Regions from separate parts of the Homo sapiens genome. Here region 1 is linked to region 2. The links come from fine-mapping of genetic effects on gene expression. A gene starts in region 2. The other region holds a variant in brackets. All regions are shown on one strand. Distances are between the middles of the regions. Region 1 has its middle 11 kb from the start of HSPG2. Region 2 holds the start of LDLRAD2 (low density lipoprotein receptor class A domain containing 2).

Region 1 (5,374 bases), 140 kb before region 2:
AGAAACAAGTCACCTGGTGAACCCCAAGGTGGCCAGAAAGACCGCTTTCCAGGGCAGCCCCTGCTGCCTGCTCTGTAAGGATTGTCCCTCGGACTCCTCCAGCCCCACTCCTCCAGCTCATCAAAGGCATCAACTACCTGGACCAATCCACCAATGCCTATAACAGCTGCCACAAGACATTGCAGAGCCTGCCAAAGCTTGCAGCCAACTACCTGGAAAGGGCTGCCAGCTCCCTCAACCTAGACCACCAGGACCACCCCTTGCCCCAGAGTTACTCCAGCCCCAGCACCAGCGTGACCATCCCAAACAACTCCACCACCAGCACCTGCATGGTGCTGTCCCTCAGGGGTGCCAGTGCCCTGCAGTGCCTGGATGACTCCACCAACACGAGTTATCCGTGCAGGTCTCATTGCCAGAACTTCACTATCGCGCTGCCACGGGGTCCACGTACAAAGCTGCCTGAGCTCCCTTTGCTTAGCAATGGGCTCTTTGCCTTAGGTTGTCTGCCCAAGGTCTGGGAAGCAATCTGCTCAGGCTGGAGTGACCCTGAGCCCATCTCCAAACCCCCAAGCTGGTGGTGACACTGACGCCAACTGTGAAACGTGCACATGCCCCTCAGGCCACAGTTGTGGAAAATAAATCGTCTGTGGCAAAATACTTCTTCTAAGACTTTGTTGGAGGGGAATGGCCATTTAGATTAGGGTTATAAACTCAAGGGCCTCTGGGGCCAGGCAGGGAAAAGTGAAATGAGAGAATTTCAGGCAGGGCAGTAGCAGGGAATGATAGACTGTGGATGGGTGGAGAGGGACTGCCTAGTCTCAACCCGCCTCTCGAACAGGTTGAGGCCTTATAAGAAAATCCAGGGAACTGATTTTTTTTTTTTTTTTTGAGTCTGAGTCTCGCCCTGTTGCCCAGGCTGGAGTGCAGTGGTGCAATCTCAGTTCACTGCAACCTCCGCCTTCTGTGTTCAAGCGATTCTCCTGCCTCAGCCTCCTGTGTAGCTGGGATTACAGGGACACGCCACCACGCCCAGCTAATTTTTGTATTTTTAGTAGAGAGAGAGTTTCACCATGTTGGCCAAGCTGGTCTTGAACTCCTGACCTCATGATCTGCCTGCCTCGGCCTCCCAAAGTGCTGGGATTACAGGCATGAGCCACCGTGCCCAGCCTCAGGGACCTGATTTTATATGTCAGCGACAAATTCAAATATGTCAGGATGCTCTGTGGGCTGAAAAAAAATACTTGCAGGCTAAATGTAAAACCCACAGGTCTCGGCTTGGAATCTCTGGTTTAGATCCTGAATGGATCACTGAGGAGGTTGCTGTCCTCCCTTAGCCTTGGTTGCCCCATGTGAAGAAACAGACTGGCTGTCCATTCCCAACTCCTATGCGTATTCCTCTCTTTTCAGGATTGTTGATTTTAGCACAGTCCCATGTGAGCAGAAATGTTTAATTAATACGAATTATAAGAAAAATAACAAGCACTCATAGAGTACTTATTATATAGCAGGAACTGTTCTAAGTTCTTGATATATGTTTATTCTTTTAAAGGTGTGATTTTAATGATCAGGGCCTAGGTTAGACATAGAGTAAAGCTTCCTGGTGGCTAGTGTGAGAGGCACTGGAACAGTCCACGAGGCACAGTAGCAGATAGTGGGATGGCCCTTTTTGGGAAATCTCTGCAGAGTGGTTCTGTCTGTGCCAGGGGAGGGCTGGAAGGATCAAGATGAGCTGGTCCCCTTTTCCCACTACGCTGAATTTCTTGCTGGGAATATCTGGGAAAATGTTCCCTGGGCCACCAAGAACTCCAACTGAGCTCCTTCAGAGACCCAACTGAGTCTGGTGCTGGAACATAGGGCATTCAGCAACCCACCATCCTGCTGGCTAAGGGACCCTGGAGACAGGGATTCCAGCCTAGTCCCACCACTAACCTGCCCTGAGATCTTGGATATACCACTTCTCACTCCAGTCCTCGGATTCCCCATCTGTAACAAGGGTGCAGTAGCTCTGATGATCTCTAAGGGCCCTTAGACTCTGATGTTTCTGAGTGTCTTCTCTTGGGAACCAGGCCAGGCCTGGAGCCTCTCAGGCTGAGGATTGAGAGTACCTGCACC[C/T]AAGAACTCAGGCCTCCTGTACCCTGAGCCATCTTCCCAGGCTAACCAGGTGCCGTTTCAGGCCTCAGGGCCCATTTCTATATGGTGATGAACTTCAGGCTTCAGGTTTCTTATTGCTTGAGCTCTCCTCATCACCCTGGCAATGTGAAGGCCAATAGCAGCTCAGACTTCAGAATGGGGCTGACCTTGAGATAATGCAGAACCTGGAGGCCCACCAGGTTCCACGGTGTTTGGAGGCAGTGGCCAGTCAGAGAAAGTGACAAACCTGAGTATCCCCACCATGAGATCACCACAGTGGTCCCAGGGCAGGAGGAGGGAAGGGGCCAAACTCCTGGCCCACTGAATTCACCCTCCCTTCTATTCCATCTCTGGAGGACAAGGGCAATCCTCCCTGGGCCCACAGTGGAGCATGTGGCATACTCCTTTCTCTGTTGCACCCCTTCCCTCCTCAGGGAGAAGACTTTGGCTTTAGTCTGGTGGGTCCTCATCTTGCCAGAGACCCATTCCCCAGGTGAACATTCGCAGGAACACAGCTTGTTAGAATCCATTTGGCCTAGTTCAAGAGACAGTTCAAGGGTGTCCCGACTCCCAAAGCCTCTGTCTGGCCATCTAAAGCCACCCTTCTCATTCCAGGGCTGTATTTTCCTGGCTCTCAGAGGCCTCAGAGCGGTCTGTCCCTGACTCTCCTGGAGATGCTCACCTCCAAAACGGTGCACTTTCTCCCAGTGAGAGTGTAAGATCCTTGCCTAGGGTGCTGCTCTTAAGGTCTCCAGTATCTAGCCCGCTTCTGGCTCATGATAGGGACTTGAATATTAGATTAATGTTGATTACAAGCCTTGCACTCAATAGGTGCCCAGTAATAATAACTACTATTATCTTAAGGATGATTACAGGGTCTCATGTAATGGATGTTCAATAATTAACAATAGTAATGATGACAGCCAACATTAATTAAGCTCTTGGTTTTGGTTTTTGTTTTTTTCTTTTTTTTTGAGATGGAGTCTCACTCTGCTGACCAGGCTAGAGTGGTGGCTCAATCTTGGCTCACTGTAACCTCCGCCTCCCGAGTTCAAGTGATTCTCATGCCTCAGCCTCCTGAGCAGCTGGGATTACAGATGTGCACCACCACATCAGCTAATTTCTGTATTTTTAGTAGAGATGAGGTTTCATCATGTTGGCCAGGCTCGTCTCAAACTCCTGACCTTGTGATCCACCCGCCTCAGCCTCCCAAAGTGCTAGGATTACAGGTGTGAGCGACTGAGCCCAGCCTGTTTTTTTTTTTTTTTTCTGAGACGGTGTCTCGCTCTGTCGCCCAGGCTGGAGTGCAGTGGCACAATCTTGGCTCATTGCAACCTCTGCTTCCTGGGATCGAGTGATTCTCCTGCCTCAGCCTCCTGAGAAGCTGGGATTACAGGTGCCTGCCACCATGTCTGGCTAATTTTTGTATTTTTTAGTAGAGACGGGATTTCACCGTGTTGGCCAGGCTGGTCTCGAACTCTTGACCTCAAGTGATCCACCCGCCTTGGCCTCCCAAAATGCTGGGATTACAGCATGAGCCACCGCCCCCGGCCGCACAGCAACTCTTTAAGGATGGTACCATTATCCTTATTTTACAGATGAGCAAACTGAGGCACAGAGTGGTCGGGTATAAATGAGTATGATAAAGATGATTAAAGTGCATAGAACACATTGGCTTTTCAGAAAATATTCGGTATTAACATTACGGAGTACTATATGCAGAATAGGTACACAATAATATAATTATCTTCACAGGGACAACATCTTGCAAATGCAAGGTGTTCTGCAAATGCACACAGTAGGTGCTCAATGAATGGTAGATGTCATTATAGAGCCTCGTACTGAGTAGGTGCTCAAATGAGGTTTTCCCATTGGTTGGGGTTTGGATTGTATCCCAGAGAGACAGGATCTCAGCCCTTTGCCCAAACTGCTTCTCAGGATAGATACTTACTGTTCACAAATCCCTTCCACAAGTTATTCAGCCAGAGTTCAGGGAAAATAAGCCTGTTAGGGAAGGTCCTCTGCTCCACCTGGCCATGCAGAGGCCACAGGAAGCCTCCCAGGTCTACAGTTCAAGCCATGCATCTGCAGGGTCCATGTAAACAGGAAGCAGCATGCTGGCTGCAGACAATGCCACAGCCTGCTGTACTGTCCCCCTTGTGTTCAGGAGTGGCCTTGGTGTCCCCGTGGCTGGGAGTGGCCGAGGAAAGTCTTTCACACTTGCAGAAGTACGTCGCTCATTGAGCACTCACGCTGTGTGCCAGGCATGCTGCCGAGGCCTGAAACGCAGGCTCTCAACCCTCCCCAGCTTGCCAGGCTAGGTTTCAGTGCCCCATTTTGAAGAGGGGGAAACTGAGGCTTAGTGAGAGGAAGTGACTGCCCAAGCGCCTGCAGCTGATTGCAGAGCTGGGATTTCAACCCAGGGTTCTAACTCTCGGCCAGTGTCCTTTTCATCCAAAGTACAGCTTCTTTTTATTTATTTATTTTTATTTCAATAGTTTTGGGGAAGAGGTGGTGTTTGCTTAGCTGCATAAGTTCTTTAGTGGTGATTTATGAGATTTTGGTGCACTCATCACCTGAGCAGTGTACGCTGTACTCAGTGTGTAGTCTTTTATCCCTCACCCCCCTCCCATCCTTCCCCCTACCAAGTCCCCAAAGTCCATTATGTCATTCTTATGCCTTTGTATCCTCACAGCTTAGCTCCCACTTTTTTTTTTTTTGAGATGAAGTCTCACTCTTGTCGCCCAGGCTGGAGTGCAATGGCGCGATCTCAGCTCACTGCAACCTCCGCCTCCCGGGTTCAAGCGATTCTCCTGCCTCAGCCTCCCCAGTAGCTGGGATTACAGGTGTTTGCCACCACACCTGGCTAATTTTTGTATTTTTAGTAGAGATGGGGTTTCATGATGTTGGCCAGGCTGGTCTCAAACTCCTGACCTCAGGCGATCCGCCTGCCTCGGCCTCCCAAAGTGCTGGGATTACAGGCATGAGCCACCATGCCCGGCCAGCTCCCACTTATAAGTGAAAACATATGATGTTTGATTTTTCCATTCCTGAGTTACTTCACTTAGAATAATGGTCTCCAACTCCATCCAAGTTGCTGTGAATGCCATTATTTCATTCCTTTTCATGGCTGAGTAGTATTGCATGGTCAAAGTGCAGTTTCTTTTCTTTTTTCTTTTTCTTCTTCTTCTTCTTCTTCTTTTTTTTTTTTTTTTTTGAGACAGAATCTTGCTCTGTTGCCCAG
Region 2 (5,330 bases):
GTTGGCTCTTAGGATCCGGGAGGTCCCTTATTGTGACTCTGCCACTAGCCACCACCTTCTTCCCTCCCGTTGGACCCAGTCCCTGCCATCTTGTGCTTCGGGCACCCCTGCCATTCCCCTGTCGGCAGCGGCCCTCACCGGGGCCCCCACTGTGGCCCCAGTCCCGCATGGCCTCTGCAGAGGGTCCCGTCCCGGCCTTCAGCCCCAGCTCACCCAGACGGAAAGAGGTGACTTCGCCCACGAAGTCCACGCGGGGCTGGCGGCCTCTCGTGACCAGGCGCAGGCCTAGAAAGGGTCCGGAGGATGCCACAGGCACCGGGATGTTCAGGCCGCACAGTGGGGACCCCAGGGGCCGGGGCGCCCCCGGCGGGCCCTCGTAGAACTGCAGGTAGGAGCCGGGGGCGCACGGGTCGGCCGGGGCCGGGGAGGAGGTGTTGAGCGCCGGGGGCGCGGGGGTCAGGCTGTAGACCAGGAAGAAGCGGAACTGGAAGCGGATCCGGTCGCCGGGGGCTGCCGCCTGCACCCAGAGCCCGCAGTCGGTGTCCGGAGCCACGAAGTAGAACCTGCGCGATGCGGCGTGCGAGCGCAGCAGCAGCCCGTCCCCCTGCCACGTCTGCCCGCACAGTTCCGCCAGGTCGGCTGCAGCGGAAGGCACGGAAACTGGAGCCGCGCGGCGCGACCCCGAACTCTACTCTGTCCCCTGCCCGCTGTGTGATCCCAAGCGAGTTACTCGCCCTCTCTGAGCCTCATTTTCCTCATCGGTAAAATGGGGATGATTAATCAATCTCAGAATGATTGTAAGGATTAAATGATTTAATTTAATTTAATTCAAATCTACAATCCCTTATTCGAAACCCTAAGATGCGGGGCCGAGCGCAGTGGCTCACGCCTGTAATCCCAGCACTTTGGAGGCCAAGGCAGGTGGATCACCTGAGGTCAGGAGTTCGAGACCAGCCTGGCCAACATGGTGAAACCCCATCTCTACTAAAATACAAAAAATTAGCCGGGCATGGTGGTGCGCACCTGTAATCCCAACTAATCGAGAGGCTGAGGATGAGAATCGCGTGAACTCTGGAGGCGGAGGTTGCAGTGAGCTGAGATCAAGCCACTGCACTCCAGCCTGGGTAACACAGCGAGACTCCGTCACCAAAAAAAAAAAAGGGGAGGGGGAGAGCTGTGTGATAAGGAGCCCCTTTTCTTCCTGCTTTTGAAAGCTGCTGACTGAGGATGAGGATGGGATGTCCAGAGCTGCAGCAGCCATTTTGCAAAGATGAGGTCAGAGCATTTCAGAGGAACAGTGACATTGTTGAGCCGTTGAGTTAACCATCTCTGGAATCACCTATGACCACTCTTAACTGAAATAGCAAATATCCTACCATTTAAGCCCCATTTAGTTTGTTATCTGTTACTTACAGCCCAAAACATCCTCACTGGTACAGGGTTGTTGTGAGGATTAAATGAGAAGATGTGCAAGTACTCAAAGTAGCCCTGATTTCTGTAAGCACAGAGAGGAAAGAGGAGGTGGGTTTTCTGGTGCAAGATAGGGACCAGTGGGTACTTGAGGACCAGCCAGGATGTGGGTCTTTGAGGAAAAAATCCTTCATCAGAGCTCAGGATGTGGGAGCACTTTCCAATATTTGGTATTTCTCTGCTAAAGCCAGAGCCTACCCTGAAGGTACACAGGGCAGGCATGGAGTTTAGAGAGTAAGGGAATTGGGCACCCTTTTTTTTTTTTATTTCTTTGAGACGGAGTCTCTCTCTGTTGCCAGGCTGGAGTGCAGTGGCGCAATCTCGGCTCACTGCAGCCTCCGACTCCCTGGTTCAAGCGATTCTCCTGCCTCAGCCTCCCAAGTAGCTGGGATTACAGGCACATGCCACCATGCCCAGCTAATTTTTGTATTTTTAGTAGAGATGTGGTTTCACCATGTTGGCCAGGATGGTCTTGATCTCGTGACCTCATGATCCGCCCGCCTCGGCATCACAGAGTGCTGGGATTACAGGCGTGAGCCACTGCGCCCAGCCGGGAATTTGGCACCTTTTATGTGCCAGGTATTATGAAGTGCCTTGCATGACTTATCTCATCTTATATGCCAATAATCATAGTCCCTTAAGGGGCAAGGGCCTATTATTTTCATTTTACTGCCAAAGAAATTCAGAGAGTTGAAACAATGATCTCAAAGGTACAAACATAAGAAGTGGCAGAGTGTGTAAATGCAGCTTCTCTGAATCCGAAGCCTACAGAGTTTTGCAAAGCAGGCCCTGAGGGCTGTCCTGCCCACTCCCAGACTCCTGCTTCTAGGTGACTGGCAGATCCAAGCCTTCCAGAAGGCTTTGGGTTGGATTTGGGGATGCCAAGCAAGACCAGACACAGTTTCCCAGCCTCCCCCAGCTCAAAAGGTCTCAGCCCAGCAGGATGAGTGCTGACTGGGGAAACATAGTCTCTAAGGATGGTGGGGGCCCAAGTCTTCTGGGTGCCCCAACCAAGCCCCCTGATACTTACCTGTCTCCAAAGCAGTTGCAGTCAGGGCGGCTGCCCCCAGCAAGAGCAACCTTTGGGGCAACTGCAGAAGACAACAAGCCTCCATCCAGGCTCTGCTGTGCCCAGCAATGGGGCAGACCCACAGAATCTTCAGCTTGGGGTCTCTGGGGAGACTGGAGTATGGGGCCTGGTCAGGCCAGCAGGGAGGCTGGTGGGACACAAGGAGAAGGGGGAGGCAAGTCTTCACTATGATCTTAGTGCTTTGCCTTCCAGATCCTCTTCATTTGGTTCAGAACTGTGTCCAGGGGTTGCCATGGAGATTTGGAGCAAGGGCTAGAGCCTGGGGAGAGGAGGCAGGGAGGAGATCTGCTCCCCTTCTGCCAGACAGGAACCAGGAAACTCAGATCCGGTTCAGCCATAGGGCTTCTGGGAGGAGGACCCACAGGAAGCCAGATCTGCTACCTTCCTAGATCAGCTGGCCCCTTAGGGACTGAGCTTGAGGGAGGTCCAGGACACCAAAGGAGCCTCTCTGAGGGCCTAGAGAGCAGCAGGCAGAGAAGGAGCACTGGACCAGGAGTCTGCTGTATTACTAACAAGCCATTCCTGCCTCAGGGCCTTTGCACTCATAGATCCCTCTGTCTGGAGTGTTGTCCCCCCATAGCAGTGCACGGCTGACTTCTTCAGGTCATCAGGTTGTGGCTCACATGTTACCTCCACAGACCACACTCTCCTGACCACCTCTCCAACTAAATTAACACTCTCTCTCTTTGTCACTCAATCACATCTCAAATGTATCATCCCAGCACTGTCTGGAATTATTTTGCCTATTCATTTCTTCTTGTATATATTGTCCACTGGCCTCCACTAAAATTATATTCCATGAGTATCTTGTTTACCTCTGAACCCTTATGTCATAGCACAGTCACTGGCACAAGGCAGGCGCCCAGGAAATAATGAAAGAATAAGTGTGTGGCATTGAACAAATGACCCCTTTTTCTGGATTTTACTTTCCCATGTGTAAAATAAATACCCTGGACTAATTCAGACTTTTTCAAAACGTGTTATTAGTAGAACAATTTTTTTTCAAAAGGTATGTTACAAGGAACCTTTATCTATAAAACTGAAGCTTTTCAAGCCCTGGCATCCTTCTCTGGAAAATGGGATAATGATTAATTCCAACCACATAGTTGCATTGTAAGAATTAAGTAACTTGGCCTGGCTTGGTGGCTCATGCCTGTAATCCCAGCACTTTGGGAGGCAGAGGTGGGTGGATCACAAGGTCAGGAGTTCAAGGCCAGCCTGGCCAACATAGTGAAACCCCATCTCTACTAAAAATACAAAAAAAATTAGCCGGGCATGGTGGTGCATTCCTGTAGTCCCAGCTACTCAGGAGGCTGAGGCAGGAGAATCGCTTGAATCCGGGAGGTGGAGGTTGCAGTGAGCTGAGATTGTGCCACTGCACTCCAGCTTGAGCAACAGAGTGAGACTTCATCTCAAAAAAAAAAAAAAAAAAAGAATTAAGTAACTTAATACAAGTGGGGTACTTGGAATAGTGTCTATCATGTAGTAAAGTAACCAATGTATTTCAGCTTGAATGATGATCATTAATGTCATCGTTATTATTTAAGCAGATGTTTCAAGTGTGGGGGAGGGGAGGAGCTAAGCAGCCCAAATTGGCAGTGCCTGAGACACCACCTCAAAATCCCAGGAATCCATGAGAAGGTTAAGACCTCTGGACCTGGCCGGGCACAGTGGCTCACACCTGTAATCCCATCACGTTGGGAGGCCAAGGCAGGCGATCACCTGAGGTTGGGAATTCGAGAGCAGCCTGGCCAGCATGGTGAAACCCCATCTCTACTATAAATACAAATATTAGCCGGGCGTTGTGGCACAGAGGCTGAGGCACAATAATCGCTTGAACCCGGGAGGCGGAGATTGCAGTGAGCCGAGATTGCACCACTGCACTCCAACCTGGGCGATAAAATAAAAAAAAAAAAAAACCCAAAACAAACACCTCTGGACCTATTATTCCCTAACAGCTCTCCCTCCTGGAGCGGTCATTTGATGCAACCTTGATTTCCTACAGTGTATGATGTCCAAATCTGTACCTTGGGGAACTCCAAAAAGACTCAAATCTTCCCTCAGCAAGAATGAATTTATCATGAAGCCCACTGAAGCTTAAACTTCAGAACTCATCACCTGCATGGGATTATATGGTTTTTGTTTTGTTTTGTTTTTGTTTTTGTTTTTGTTTTGAGACTGAGTCTTGCTCTGTCGCCCAGGCTGCAGTGCAGTGGCGCAATCTTGGTTTGTTGCAAGCTCCGCCTCCCGGGTTCACGCCATTCTCCTGCCTCAGCCTCCCAAGTAGCTGGGATTACAGGCACCCGCCATCACGCCCGGCTAATTTTTTGTATTTTTAGTACAGATGGGGTTTCACCGTGTTAGCCAGACTGGTCTTGATCTCCTGACCTTGTGATCCACCCACCTCAGCCTCCCAAAGTGCTAGGATTACAGGCGTGAGCCACCGCGCCCGACCTTTTGTTTGTTTTTTTTTTTTTTTGAGATGGAGTCTCACTCTGTTGCCCAGGCTGGAGTGCAGTGGCATGATCTCAGCTAACTGCAACCTCCCAGGCTGGAGTGCAGTGGCATGATATCAGCTCACTGCAACCTCTGCTTCCCGGGTTCAAGAGATTCTCCTGCCTCAGCTTCCCGAGTAGCTGGAACTACAGGTGTGTGCCACCACACCCAGCTAATTTTTTATTTTTAGTAGAGATGGGGGTTTCACCATGTTGGTCAGGCTGGTCTCGAACTCCTGACCTCAGGTGATCCGCCCACCTCGGCGTCCCAGAGT

The links. PIP is the estimated chance that this variant, and not a neighbour inherited with it, causes the effect. A credible set is the group of variants that fine-mapping cannot tell apart.
Region 1: its variant is the best candidate, but not a certain one, in a credible set for the expression of LDLRAD2 in skeletal muscle (GTEx, PIP 0.68).

Annotation. Positions count from the first base shown.
Region 1 is chr1:21,945,942-21,951,315 of GRCh38, reverse strand. No RefSeq gene overlaps it. Among named protein-coding and RNA genes, the nearest start is that of HSPG2, 11 kb to the right of the region's middle. The variant C/T (reference allele first, on the strand shown) is at 2,113.
Region 2 is chr1:21,809,707-21,815,036 of GRCh38, reverse strand. LDLRAD2 (low density lipoprotein receptor class A domain containing 2) reads right to left here and starts at 2,772. Exons shown (of 5, transcript NM_001013693.3): 1 at 2,501-2,772; 2 at 214-639. The coding sequence starts at 2,585. RefSeq lists silencers at 288-407, 4,136-4,286 and an enhancer at 2,687-2,981.